Regions from separate parts of the Homo sapiens genome. Here region 1 is reported to be linked to region 2. The links are microRNA targets in miRTarBase. Many come from high-throughput screens and were not tested one by one. Region 2 holds a microRNA gene; the other region holds the end of a gene's coding sequence. Distances are from middle to middle.
Evidence for each region. Region 2 holds the annotated microRNA hsa-miR-4735-5p (CCUAAUUUGAACACCUUCGGUA, at 2,495-2,516, opposite strand). A microRNA usually pairs through its seed, bases 2 to 8, with sites in the 3' UTR of a target mRNA and lowers its output. Matches are read on the target gene's strand: a 7mer-m8 pairs with bases 2 to 8, a 7mer-A1 pairs with bases 2 to 7 and ends in A, and an 8mer does both.

Region 1 (7,000 bases), 16 Mb from region 2:
TTATTTTTTTCTGAAAATATCTCTTTTGGAGTCCTACATAGTCCTTTTTTTTTTTTTGAGATGAAGTTTCGTTCTTGTTGCCCAGGCTGGAGTGCGATGGCGTGATCTTGGCTCACTGCAACCTCTGCCTCCTGGGTTCAAGCGATTCTCCAGCCTCAGCCTCCTGAGTAGCTGGGATTACAGGCATGCGCCACCACGCCCAGCTAATTTTGTATTTTTAGTTGTTGGTCAGGCTGGTCTCCAATTCCCAGCCTCAGGTGATCTGCCTGTCTCGGCCTCCCAAGGTGCTGGGATTACAGGTGTGAGCCACCGCACCCGGCCTACATAGTCTTATTCCAACCTGGTCTGCCTAGTCTCCAAATCTGCTGATTAGTTAGTAGCCTGTAGACTCGAGTGTGCTGTGTTTTGGGAGCCTTAGTTTCCCAGATCCCATGGCTGCTGCTTTTTTGGTTTACCCTTTGGAATAGAGCACAGCCCCTGGTAGAACCCCCAAACGGGATGCCTTGGAGGTAATTTTTTTTGACGCTTTGCATATCTGAGATATCTTTTAGCTAATCATGCACTTGATTATTAGTTTGACTGTGTATAAAAGCCTAGGTTGTATATCATTTATGCTGAGAATATTTCTCCAGATGCTTCTAGATTTTAGGATTGTTGTTTAGTAATCTGATGCCATTCCAATTCCTCTTGGTATTCCTCAGGTCTGGGAATGTTTCTTGTGTTATTTCTATTTCTTTATTCTCTTTTTAAATTGAGATATACTTTACCATCTCACTCACCCTTTTAAACTGTATTGTTCAATGGTTTTCAGTATATTCAACAAGCAGTCGTGAATCACCATAATCAAATTTAGAGGGTTTTCATCACCCTCAAAAGACATCCCAGGCCAGGCGCAGTGGCTCACGCCTGTAATCCAGCACTTTGGGAGGCAGAGGTGGGCGGATCGCTTGAGCTCACGAGTTTGAGACCAGCCACATAGCGAAACTCCGTCTCTACAAAAAATACAAAAATTAGCTGGGCATGATGGTGCATGCCTATAGTCCCACCTACTTGGGAGGCTAAGGTGGGAGGATGGCTTGAGTTGCGGGGGCAGAGGTTGCAGTAAGCCAAGATAGCACCACTGTACTCCAGCTTGGGCAACACAGCAAGACCTTGTTTCACAAAAAAAAAAAAAAAAAAATCCCATACCCATTAGCAGTCACTTCCTATTCCTTCCACCCTCTCCATCTTTCCAGCCTTAGGCAGTGACAGATCTATTTTTTGTTTCTGTAGATTTGCCTGTTCTGGACAGTTCATTTACATGGAGTCTACAAAATTCAGCAGTCTTTTGTGAGAGGCTTCTTTCACTTGGCATGTTTTAAGGTTCATCTACACTGTGGCATTTACCAGTACCTCATTTCTTCTTATTGCCAAATAATATTCTATTGAGTGGATAGTCCACATTTTATTTATCCATTCATCAGTTCATGAAAGTTCAACCTGCTGCTACAAACATTTGTGTGTAAGTTATTGTGTGAGCATGTTTTCAATTCTCTTAGGTTTAGAACGTGGAGTAAAATTGCTGGGCCATATGGTAACTGCATTATCTCTTTGATAATTTTGACTCTGCTGCTTTTTCTGCATGCTATCTCTGGAATGGGTATCGATTAGACTTTGAACTTTATGAACTTATTCTCTTTATTCTTACTTTTCTAATTTGCCATTTCTTAATCTTTCTGTTTTATTTTTGGGAAAATTTCATTTTATCTCCCAGCCCTCCCACTGAATTTTTATTTCAACTTTCATATTTTTAATTTTCAAAAACTTTTTCTTATTTACTGAACATTATTTAATAGCATTCCGATTTTCCAAAAAATGTATGATTTTCTCTTCTTTCTGGGAGTACAGTCATCATTCTGGGATTTTGCTTTGTATGTATCTGTTTTCTTTGAGGTCCTTTATTCTCTTTGGTTTTTGTTTTAATTCACTCAGTTAACCACTATGCATCGAGGGCCCATCATGTGCCAGCAATTATTCCAGGTGGATGGAACAAAGATTCCTGCCATTAAGGGACTTACAGTTTTTGGGTCTGTCTTTGATGCTGGAGACGCTCCTCAAATATTTGGTGAATCAGTTTTGTGCATTTTTAAAATATAAAACTTAAATAAAGTGCAGAAATTTTAAGTGTATAGTTCAACAAAATTTTACATACATATACAGCCATGTGAGCACCACTCAGATCAAGATACAGAACATTTTGCTCACCCAAAAATGTTTCCCGTGCCATTCCCAGTTAATATCTCCCCTCTCCCCAGAGGGAACCACCATGGCTTAGTTTTGCCCATTCTGTGATTCCATACACAGGATGTATTCTCTTGTGCCTGGCTTTGCTTCTTTTATTCAATATAGTATCTTTGATATTGATCCACATTGTTATAACAGTAATTTGTTCTTTATTCCTGTATTCCTTCCCTGATTATTTGCCTAAAACATTCAAGACTGCTCAAATGCCACCTCTTCTACAAAGACTTCCATGACTACTCCCCTAAGTTCCACACATACATCTATCATACCATTTGCTGCATGGCATTATCATTGTTTGCACACTCATCCTCTTCACTGGAATATGACCTTCCTGAAGGCAACACTTGTCCTGAGTGTTTTCATTTCCTTTATCAAAAGAAGTAATAACAGTGATCATAGAGTACTCATATGCACCAGTTATTAGTCTAAGGCCTTCACATTATGAACTCATTTACTTCTCAGAATAACGCTATGAGGTAGGCATAATTATTATCCCCATTTTGCACATGAGAAAACTGCAGCATAGACAGGTTATGTAACTTGCCCAATGTCACTGAACTAATAATGGTAGAACTGCAATCTGAACCCAGATGATCTGGCTCAGAGACTATGCTCTTTAAGATCTCTGACTTTTGATCATAGACAGGTTAAGTAACTTGTCCAATATCATTGAACTAATAATGGTAGAACTGAAATCTGAACTCAGATGATCTGGCTTAGAGGCTGTGCTCTTAAGATCTCTGACTTTTGATCCGAGTAGGTGTCCAACTGTATGTGTTGAACAGATGAATAAATGAATGAAGGTGGATAGAGAAGATAGGTGTTCACCAGAAATCAAACAAATTCAGCCTTAGAAAAGAAAAAGTACATCTTACAAGATGAAATCATACTGTTTGAAGCAATAAAAAATTTGGTTTTATTCACTTTGTCCTCTACGGAGCCCAAGCCATAAAGGGCCAGGGAAAGAGGTCTAGGATAAGATTTTCTGTGGGCTTGTGTTATGGACTCAATGTTTGTGTCCCCCTAAAATCTGTATGATGAAGCCTTAACTCCCATGTGCCTATAGCTGTATTTGGAGATGGGGCCTCTAAGGAAATAATTAAGGTTAAATGAGGCCATAAGGGTGGGGCTCTGATCTGATACAATTGGTGTCCTTATAAGAAGAGACACCAGAGAGCTTGCACTCTGTCCCTCTCTCCACATGCATGCACTGAGGAAAGGCCATGTGAGGACATAGTAAGGAGGTGGTCATCTACAAGTCGGGAAGACAGCCCTCACCAGAAACTGCATTTGCCAGCACCTTCTCATGGACTTCTAGCCTCCAGAACTGTGAGAAGTAAGTATCTGTTGTTTAAGCCACCCAGCCTGTGGTATTCTGTTATAGTAGCCTAAATAAACAAATGTAGATTTTGGTACCAGTTTTCAGAAACCAGCTTTGACAGTGTTCTCTCTTCTTTGGGACTAGACTTAACCTTCTTGTGTTCTTCTTATTATTATTTTGAAACAGGGTCTCACTCTGTCACCCAGGCTGGAGTACAGTGGTGCCATCCTGGCTCACTGCAACTTCTGCCTCCAGGGCTCAAGTGATCCTCTCATTTCAGCCTCCTGGGTGGCTGGGACTACAGGTGTGTGCCATCACACCCTGCTAATTTTTGTATTTTTTGTAGAAATGGAGTTTCACTATGTTGCCCAGGCTGGGCTCAAGTAATCTGTCCACTTCAGCCTCCCAAAGTGCTGGGATTACAGGCATGAGCCCACCGCGCCTGGCTATTTCTTTTCTGAAAGATAATTTTAAGACCCTATTCAATCCAGACTCTTTTTATCATAGAGCAAGATTTGATTTTCAATTTTTTCCTTCAACCTTTCCAATTCCTTAAAACTACAGACTTTCTTGCTTTTAATCCTTAGCTTACTAGTTCTTGGCCTATGCAGAAATGCAACTTCTCCTCTTACACAGTATACTTATTCAATATTATTACTGCTATTGGTCATGCTTTTCTTAGTTAATAATGCTAATACGTACTGTCTTTCCCAGTGGTATTTCTATTTTAAACTCTGCTATAACTATGGAGTAAAACTTTGGGCTCTCAAGAGGATTTCAAATCTCAGCTGTCTGCCTGGGGACTTTAAAATATAACCATTTTTTAAAAACTTATAAAAATTTCCAACACAAAGTAGAATATAGTCATTACACAGATTCAACATTAACAGGATTTTTGTCACATTTCCTTAATCGATTCCTTGTTTCTCTGCTGAATACTTCAGAGCAAATCTATCATGTCATTTAAAAACTCTATGTAGCACAATATACCTCTCTTAAAAGGGAGGGACCATGTTCTTATATAATCAAAATGCAAGTAGCTTATATAATCTAATAGAATTAACAATAACTCTTTTGTTTGGGGACCTCTGAAGTGAAACAAATCATACAGAATTTTAATACTATAAAAACATTAGCACTGTAAAAACAGCAACATATTATACAGCCTCAAAACAGTTTTAAACTGAAGTCTAGTATGTTCAGAAACGCAGGGTGCTGACCCACCATCCAACTGAAGCTGAGCTCAGGAATGCCTAAGACAACTCATAAAAATACACAGCATCAAGATCAGTCTTTGTACATTATTTCAATGAAAAACACATAGCTGTGTACAAATATACAGATCTCAAACTGTAACACTGAAACACAAAATGCAACAAAGTGGCTTTATAAGTTTTCTTCACTGAGACAGACCTTCTGGTGACTTCTGGTGAATCTAGACATTTATGATTATTAATACATAATAAGCAAGAGAAATACAGATTTTCCAACCTCATGATCAGTAAATTCCTTTGAAAAATGAATGAAGGTATCAGAGTCATCAAAAGGGGAAACAGTTGGTAAGTTTGATGGCCCTGCCTACACTGTATAATGTAAGACACACAATAAGAGCTATAAGAAACTATAGTTAAATGTTAGAAGTAAAGCCAATATCGTTTTCTCAGACTTCTCCCAGTGATTATATACCTGATATATAAACATCTTCAAATGTGAAATAGTTCAATAACACAATGACACTTTGCCAGTGTATTAATCTGATATATATTTTGAACTGGAATGATTTGTAAAGAAATAAATAAGAAACCCTAAAAAGAAACCATTAGTTCCAAGTCAAATTATGTTAATGGTCTATAGAAAAAAGTGAGTGTGGGCAGGAAACATTGGCTACATGCCAATTTTTATTTCAAAGAGTAATGTTGCACAAATAATAGTTATCATTGTCTTACACAACAAAAAATCCTAAAGTTAATCTCACAAACCTAAATTAGCTGAACATGGAGTAACAAAGTCAAAGCCAGTATTATCATCAGCACATTAATTTGATAAATCAAACTACATCTTTAAAAAAAAACCCTGCATCTGCTGCTGTGCAGAACTGATAATTACTTTTCAGCATGTAAACGAAAAATCATTATACAGCTCTCTCTCTTTTTTTTTTTTTTCCTAGAAAGATGTATACCAGGGAAACACAACAGAATTTGTTACTTGTTAAATCCCACAAAAGCTACAAGGGAGCTGAGAGTTGATGGCACTTAAGGACAGTAAAAGTCTGCACTTTTAATATTTTTAATGCCCACTGATGGGCTTTGTGTCAATACTTTTTAAAATGCTTTTTATTTACAATAGATAAAACAGTAAGGAAATACAATATTATATCATATCCCCGCACAGAGATACTATATCTGTATAAATGAATCACTAGTAAAAGAGTTATTTCTTATTTCAAATGAAGTCTTATCTAGGTATTAATTAGGCTGTAATCTAAATGTTGATGGTGCCTATTTTCAACTCCCAAAATAAACAGAAAGAGCTCATGTATCAAGATTAATTTTCTTTGGCCGCAATGGATACCATTTTCTCTGGGGGCAGTCTTTAGTTTGCTTTCTTTTCAGTACCATGTCAGAGGTTTTCCTGGAAGCAGTCTCTGTTGGTGTGGTTTCTATCTGTGTTATAAAGTTCTCAGGTTTAGCATCTGGTTTCCTATGACAACTGGAAAAGACTTCTTGGTGAATCCTCTGGAGGTGGATAACAGGCTGCATCCTGAGAACTTGGGAAAATCCCTCTCCTTGTTCAATTAATGCAGGCAAGGACTTCAAACAAACAAACAGTAATATTCAACATTAATCTCAGGTTGAAACACAAACAGACAAAGATGGATGCAGTACTCTAATTTTTTTTTTTTTTCTTGAGAAGTCTTGCTTTGTTGCCCAGGCTGGAGGGCAGTGGTGTGATCTCAGCTCACTGCAATCTCCACCTCCTGGGTTCAAGCAATTCACCTGCCTCAGCCTCCCGAGTAGTTGGGACTACAGGCGCGCACCACCACACTTGGCTAATTTTTGTATTTTTAGTAGACGTGGACTTTCACCATGTTGGCCAGGCTGGTCTTGAACTCCTGACCTCAGGTGATCTGACTGCCTTGGCCTCCCAAAGTGCTTGGATTACAGGTGTAAGCCACTGTGCCCTTGCTGATCCAGGCTTTAAATGCTGGATTGTAGGTTACTTATGTGCGCAACCTGCTTAGCCTCTCTGTGCCTCAGCTTCCTCATCTACAAAAGAAATAACAGTATCTGTCTCATAGGATGTAAGGATTACATGAGACAATACATGTAAAGCAGTTGGATGGTGCCCATACCAATTATTCAATACATTTTAGCTGGTATTATTATCCAAAACTGT
Region 2 (7,268 bases):
AAATGGCTTCCACATTCTGACAGAAAATAATTTTCCAACCTAGAAATGTTTCCATTCATGTGGAAAGGTAGAATAAAAAGATTTTCAGACATGCACAAGCTCAAAACTTTTCCTCCTGAAACCATTTCTAGGGAAGCTTCTGGAAAATGTGCTTCACCAATACAAAAGAATAAACAAATCCAGCAAATAGGACACTCAAGTAAAGAAAGTGAAGAGCATTCCTAAGATAATGGATTTATTATGAATGGAAGTCCCAGCTCCAGAAATACTAAATGGAAGAAATAATAGAATGGAAGCCCCAGCTCAACAGAGAAAAAAGTGATAAACAATCCCACAGAAATGTGGGTACAGAATGAAGCTTGAAGATGGTTCAGTGGGAGGGGAGGGAGTTCCTGAGTAACTCCACAGAAGAGAACCACGGAGGATCTGAGAGTGTTTCTTTCCACAGCATAACCTGGACCTTCCCCACAGGTACACTGTCTGATGTGTTTGATTACCCTGAGAAAGGCTTTATAGTTCTACCACAGTGCTTGGTGAAACACTATCAATAGGTAACTAGAAAACTTAGCAGACAACAAAATGAAAATGTGTATATACTTAGAAACAAAGACAGTTGAATAAGAAAATGATAATCATAATACTCATTACTCAGTTCTGAGCAAAACTGAAATAGTCATATAATATGCATACATGGTATTGCTCTAAACAAAAATAATTACTGTATTGGAAGAATGGGGAGTGAGATGTGTGTTGTGATGGTATAGTTAGACTGCTAAATCCTTATATTTCATAGTAGGAAGTCAATGAATACTCCCTCAAATTGAGAAACTGTGAAACTGACTATAGAGAATAAAAGCAGGGAAAAACACTCAAAAGGCTTCAAAGTGTTTCTTTCTGAAAAGTACATCATGGAAAAGCTGACAAGGTGAAGGCAGGGGCCAGATGGTTTTTGTTATTGTTGTTTTACTTGTTCTTGTTTTCTTGTAAGCCTTCTAATAATAGCTGATTTTTGAGCTATGTACAATCATTATTTTGGCAAGAACATTTTTTAAAGAACAGGTAATTTCTTCTCAAGAAATCATCTTGACTATAGCTGCTACAGCTATTTACAAAACGTACAGTTTTTTTTTCAGAAAATTAAACATTGAAATATTAGTATATATGTGATATAGTCATTCTTTTAGCATTTTTACCTTTCTGTACCACATAGGCTTAGAATAAGATCACATAAATGCTAATCTGTGGCAAGAAAATATGGGTCAGATTGTAGTGTTTCGCTTTTTTTATTGTCATAGAAAAATTATTCTTACATGATACTTGAGGAGTAGGAAATATTTATTCTTAGAAGTTAATTTTGTAACCTCCAAATTCCATATGCCTATAAATATCTAGATCTGGACCAGTTTAGTAAAAAAAGTTCTATTTTTATATATGTGAAATACACATGTATATTCCAAACTAAGCAAAAATAAAACATTAAATTTAATAAAGGGTTTTACTTGCTCTTTACTGAAAATGAATGCCACCGGGTGAATATTGCCCCATTTTTTTCTGTCCCTTATTCCCTGAGGCTATTCCAAAATTTCAATATAATGAAGTTAACACAATACAAAGTCCTCTCAGTGGCCGACTCACTCTAGAGACATTCCACAAGTATCCTAAGGAGATGGGGGAAAGATGGAGGGGAAACTGTTATTAGTAAGAACATATTTTCTTTCATTTATTTATAAAAACTTTCCAAAAAGAGAAAGAAATCCCACTCAAGCATAAATTAACTTCAGTTCATTTTAAAAGTATTTACTAAAAGCTGTCATAAAAATATATCAAATTCACTTTCTTCCATTACTTATGTTTTGAAAACTAAGTCTTTCATTTTGTTGTTCTCCTATTTAAATTATAGTAGATGTGTACAACATGAATAGACAGATGACAGCTGGATAATAGGCATCACAAATGCCTCTATGTTCACATTTCAGGAAAATTATGTCTTTCATAAGAAAATTCTGTGGGAGAACCAATAATACTGCCAGTTCTTCAGGTAGACTTTAAAAAGTCTTATCATATATTTCAAAACCAACATGTATGTATTTAATATTTACTTATCAACTTCTCTCCATATGCCAGTACAACGCCAACTTTTTTAGGAAAATCAACAAAGACCCTCATCTCCACCTTCCCTTCCTACATCTTAGTATCCCCTTCCAGCAAGCCTAATGGCCAAGAAAAACAGGGTTCAAGTTCCTGGCTCTGCCATTTTCTAGCTTTGTAATCACCAACGGATTACTTAACTTCTCTATGCCTGTTTCTTCAGCTGTACAATGGGGATAATATTATGCTTTCTCGTTGGGCATGTAAAGTACTTGGAAGAATGCTAGTAAAAAGTAATGTTATATGCATGTTCTCTTAAGGAGCTAAAGATCCATGAATAGATTTCAACTTGACATGCGCAAAAAATGCAATGTCTAATTTGAGCACCTTTGGTATTTTTGATGAATACCGAAGGTGTTCAAATTAGGCACTGCAATTTTATGCAAGCAGGGAAGATAAACTTGCAGAAGTGGAGCTGAGATTTTTAGAAGTTTGGAAGGGTTGGTTAGAATGATAGAGGGCAAGTTTTGTAGCTGCCTTATAAGGTCAAGTTCCCAATTTCTTCAGTCCTGGCCACTACCTTAGTGCCTCCACAAACACCCAAGATACAGCAGCATTGACAGCATTGACTAGGCTTGGTTCAAACACTGAGTCCTTTGAATTATTCTCTCACCACCAATTCATTTACATTTCAGTGATGCATCAGGCAAGGATACAGATGAACCATGTCACCTGCTTCAGCTTGTCCAAACTAAATAAAGTAGAACAAATAGAGTACAATAAAGGTTTGAAAAGCATAAAATACAGAAGATAATACAGATTGCATAGGATTATAAAATATAATTATACAGGATTATAAAATATAATTATACAGGATTATAAAATACAGAGATTTGCATAGCGAAAAAGCCTTCCTAAAATGCTGAGATAAAGATTATGTAAGTGATAACTGGTCAAAAAATAGGTGAATATCATGTGACATGTAGAGGTGGAGTGGGATGTCTTCAGAGGTTGTTATTCATTCCAGAGAGAGGAATTGTCCAATGGCAGCCAGAAGGAAGACCTGAGGCAGAAAAATTAAAACACCTCTCAAGAGTTCAGATGAGAAAGGCAGGCACATTAATTAGAAGCGTAATAATTAAAATGGACTCATGAGGACAACAATTTGAGCCATCTATGAATTGAATCAATGAGATCTGTAGTGAACCAAGCTTTAAAAAGAATTTAATAATCCAGCCTTGGGTGGCTGGTTGCATGTTGGTACCATATTTAAACACAAAAAATACCAGAGGGTAAATAGTTTCAAAGAGATGACAAAATTAATTTTGGACACTGTGGATTGAAATGTCTGCTGAACATGAAAAGACACCCAGTGGAAAGCAGTCTATATAGTTTTAGAGCTCTGCACAGAGAAGTAAGACAAATATCATGATTTGGAAATCATCAACATATAATTACATTTATTGAAGTTTAAACAAAGCAAACTAGAAATGAAAAGAGCAAAGAACCAAGGAAGAATCCTTGATAAAACATAATTTTTAGTGCTAAATAAAAGAAGGGAAGACTGTAAAGGAGAACTAGGATAAGATGAGTAGGACATAAAACAAAGAAGAATGATATCATAGAAATCAAGAGAAGGAAGTTTCAAGAAAGAGGAGGAGAATCAGAAAAAAAAAATTGTTCATTGGACCTGGCATGAAAAAGATCATCAGAAATTTTAAGAGAAACGTAAGTAGAGCCATAGGGCAGAAGAAAGAATGCACAAGATAGAAGAGTAAATAAGAGCCAGGAAAGAAAAGTTCAGGTTAAAAATGGGTGGAAAGCATGGAAATATATAGGGTACTGAAGGTCTTGATGATATGTAAAAATGAATCAGTTTGGTGTTAGTAAGGAAGTGTGAACACTGAAAGGACAAGTTAGAGTTACATGGTGGGATGTTGCCACGTAAGTTTCCAGAAGTAGAGCAATCTTGGTCATACTCAGGTCCAGCCTAACAAGAGGGTGCCAGGCAGAATTGGATATAAAAGTCACCAAACTAAAGGAACTATAAAGGCAGGGTCTGGAACAGGGTATTACCTGGGCAAAGAATGCGAAAACAATGATACTAGCATCTGGAATTAAGATAAAATAAAATAAAATAAAATAAAAAGAATAGAAGCTCCCGCCCAAACCCTCCATAATTGTGGAGGAATCACCAAAGGTTGACAAAACACAGTGACAAGAAAAAAGCAAAGGCTGTAATAAATAACATACGCCTCAAATAAGGGGAAATGTAATGGTGTATAATTTGTAAGAAGAGGGGTAACACATTTCCAAACCTGTGATATATGGGGAGCAGTATGAAAATGAGCAGCTTTTATTAAAAAGATTCTAATGTTACAGTTTGTTTCCTATTCAAATTAACAAATGGATGAACTCTCCTTGAAAAAACTGAAGGTGCTGGAAAATTTATTTGTAAGGGTGCACGTATTCCAAGAGGCTTAGAAGAAAAGATTAGCAGAGAGGGGCATGCCTGGACCATTAAATCAACAGAGTATGAGGATGAGACAGAAAGAGTACAGATGAATGAACATATTTTCAGAAAAGTATATTGTCAAACATTGTAGTAACTAGAAATAATGTTGTCAAGAGAAAATTCCTGTCAACTTTTATATCAGATTTTATTTTAATAGTAAATATATAAGCTTTGCTAGAAAAAGAACCTTGGGACTCAGGAGGAAGTTAATTAGCTTGAAGATTCCAAATGGAATTTGGGTTAAATTTTACCCAAGTACAAATATGATTCATGATTTATCACCCAGTCTAATATTCAGGAGACTTTGCCCAGGGTTCCAAACAAAACATTTTGTTTGTTTGTTTGGGGGTGGGGTTTGCAAAGATGAACTCCGAATGGAGAGGGTGCTTCCAGTAGGCGTGGGTCCCATGAAAAAGAGTCAGCACACATGTGTTCTGCTCAGAACAAGGACCATTCACAGGCAGAAGAGGCTTATCATTCAGTATTTGCCAAGCATTTATTATTTTCAAGTATGAGTACAATACGATGTAGAAGAGACTTGGAGTCTAGTTGGAGAAACTGCAGATATTTAAAAAATGACAACTCAAGGGAGTAGTTATAAAAATGAAATAATAAGCGCAAAAACTGAGACTAGGAAGAAAGCTCAGTAGTGAGGAAGAGGCAAAAGGAAGATCAGAAAATTAAAAACTAGCTATAACCTTAAGATACTATGCAATCCTGTTCTGTGTCAAACACTTTACACAAATTATCTCTTCAAAGAGAGGATGGGACTTGACTTACACATCAAGTAACTGGTAGTGAGTAAATAAACTGTGAAGAGAGGAAAAGAAACGTTTCCTCTAAAGGTTTTCTACACATATATTTAATTTATATTTTGATTATTGGACCACACATATTTATCTAAACAATTAATACTAATGAATTCTCTTTGTCATTCCACTCAGTCGATAATTCAATTGCCCAAATAAATGGAATGGATGGGTCAATTTAGTGGAAATAACTGAGCTATTTATTACAGCCAAGAGGAAGCTAACTAATTAAAAAAAAACATTATAGAGATCACAAAACGAATTTGATGACTCACAAATAACAGAGCAAGAAAGAGAATGGGATTATTTTAGAGTATTTTTTTCTTGTAATCAAAAAAGAAAAGGACATTCACTCACTCATCCATTAGGTTTGTCAGTGTAATTCCTTGGACATAGTCTTAGCAATTCATAGACTGAAAATGGAATAGCTCATCTAGAAGTACAGGATTTAAAACTTTAGATACACTCATACTTTCAAGTACTTTAGTTTTTATAGCCCATCAGTTACATTTTATAGAGGCAATAAACATAAATGAAACTTTTTTTATTAAATGCACATAAATCTCAACTCTATTGAACTCTTAATTATATAATTAGCAGGCCAAGCATGATGACTCATGTCTATAATCCCAGAACTTTGGGAGGCCAAAGTGGCAGATATCTTGAGCTCCTTGAACTCAGGAGTTTGAGACCAGCCTGCGCAACATGGCAAAACCCCATCTCTATTTAAAAAAATACAAAAAATTATCCAGGCGTAGTGGCAAGTGCCTGTGGTCCCAGCTACTTGGGAGGCTGAGACAGGAGGATCACTTCAGCCCCAGTGGCACAGATTGCATTGAGCTGAGATTCTGCTGCTACACTCCAACCTGGGTAATAGAGTGAGACTCTGTTTCAAAATAAGGAAATTAATTAATTAATATGCATATAATTAGCAGATTAATCAAGCCCTTCACTTCTTTTCTTGCTGCTAAATTCCCCATTTTGTTGTTTTATTTAAAAATCTCATGGGGTTTTTAAACTCTTGATTTAAAGTTTTAAAACTATCAGTAATATTATTAAGAATTCAATCATTTTGGGGAAAATTTGTTTGACACTAGTCAATTGATAATCTAGACATCTCCTGCTGCTAGAATAATAAGAATTCTTACCTGTATTATTATTCGTTTCTGTTATCATTAATAAGAGTACCTGATTTATCATTGAGTCACTTTCTTACTCTGCTATTGGAAAACCCAATATCAAACCACATTTTCTACTATGAAACATGAGTTTTCAGGAAGACAAGTAGAAAGAAATAGTCAGAGGCAAATAATTTAGAGGCTACTAACATTAAAATCAAGAGGATTAAAAAAAACAACAACAACAACTGTAAGTAGTACAATTTACAATCTCTTCCACCATATCTTACCATTACAAACTATATATTCTTCGTGTTCCTCCCCTGAGCTCTTATTTTATTGATAAAATGTGTCCACATTGAATAATAATCACAATATTTAATAAGTGCTAATAGGAGAACAGAACTCTTGCTTTCCACAAGTATGAGAGAAAAAATATTTGACGTGAAGCTTGACTCTCTAAAACTCAATTAGCATAATATCATTCAAATGGACTGAGTTTATGAAACATGAAGAGCAATAAACTTCTGCTGTGATGATTCTACTTTCCTCAAAGCAACTTACTGAAATATAGAAAATATTCGAATCATGGAAAAAATTTGAATAAAATTTTAACAAGAACTGACACTTTATACACTTAATGTGTTTTCAAAAATATTTTTTCCAAATCCTAAAAAATCGAATAACAACATATTGATGACTTCTAAAGACTAAGAAGGTATCATTTAGCAGTAATTA

Region 1: miRTarBase lists NSL1 as a target of hsa-miR-4735-5p. Seed matches in the 3' UTR shown: 7mer-m8 at 3,929-3,935, 8mer at 1,691-1,698 and 7mer-m8 at 204-210.

The regions. Positions count from the first base shown.
Region 1 is chr1:212,732,273-212,739,272 of GRCh38, forward strand. NSL1 (NSL1 component of MIS12 kinetochore complex) reads right to left here. Exons shown (of 6, transcript NM_015471.4): 6 at 1-6,414. The coding sequence ends at 6,136. Among named protein-coding and RNA genes, the nearest start is that of BATF3, 36 kb to the left of the region's middle. RefSeq lists a silencer at 5,501-5,701.
Region 2 is chr1:196,579,959-196,587,226 of GRCh38, forward strand. It overlaps MIR4735 (microRNA 4735), which reads right to left and starts at 2,523; the gene lies at 2,455-2,523. The region is part of intron 1 of KCNT2 (potassium sodium-activated channel subfamily T member 2); the gene reads right to left.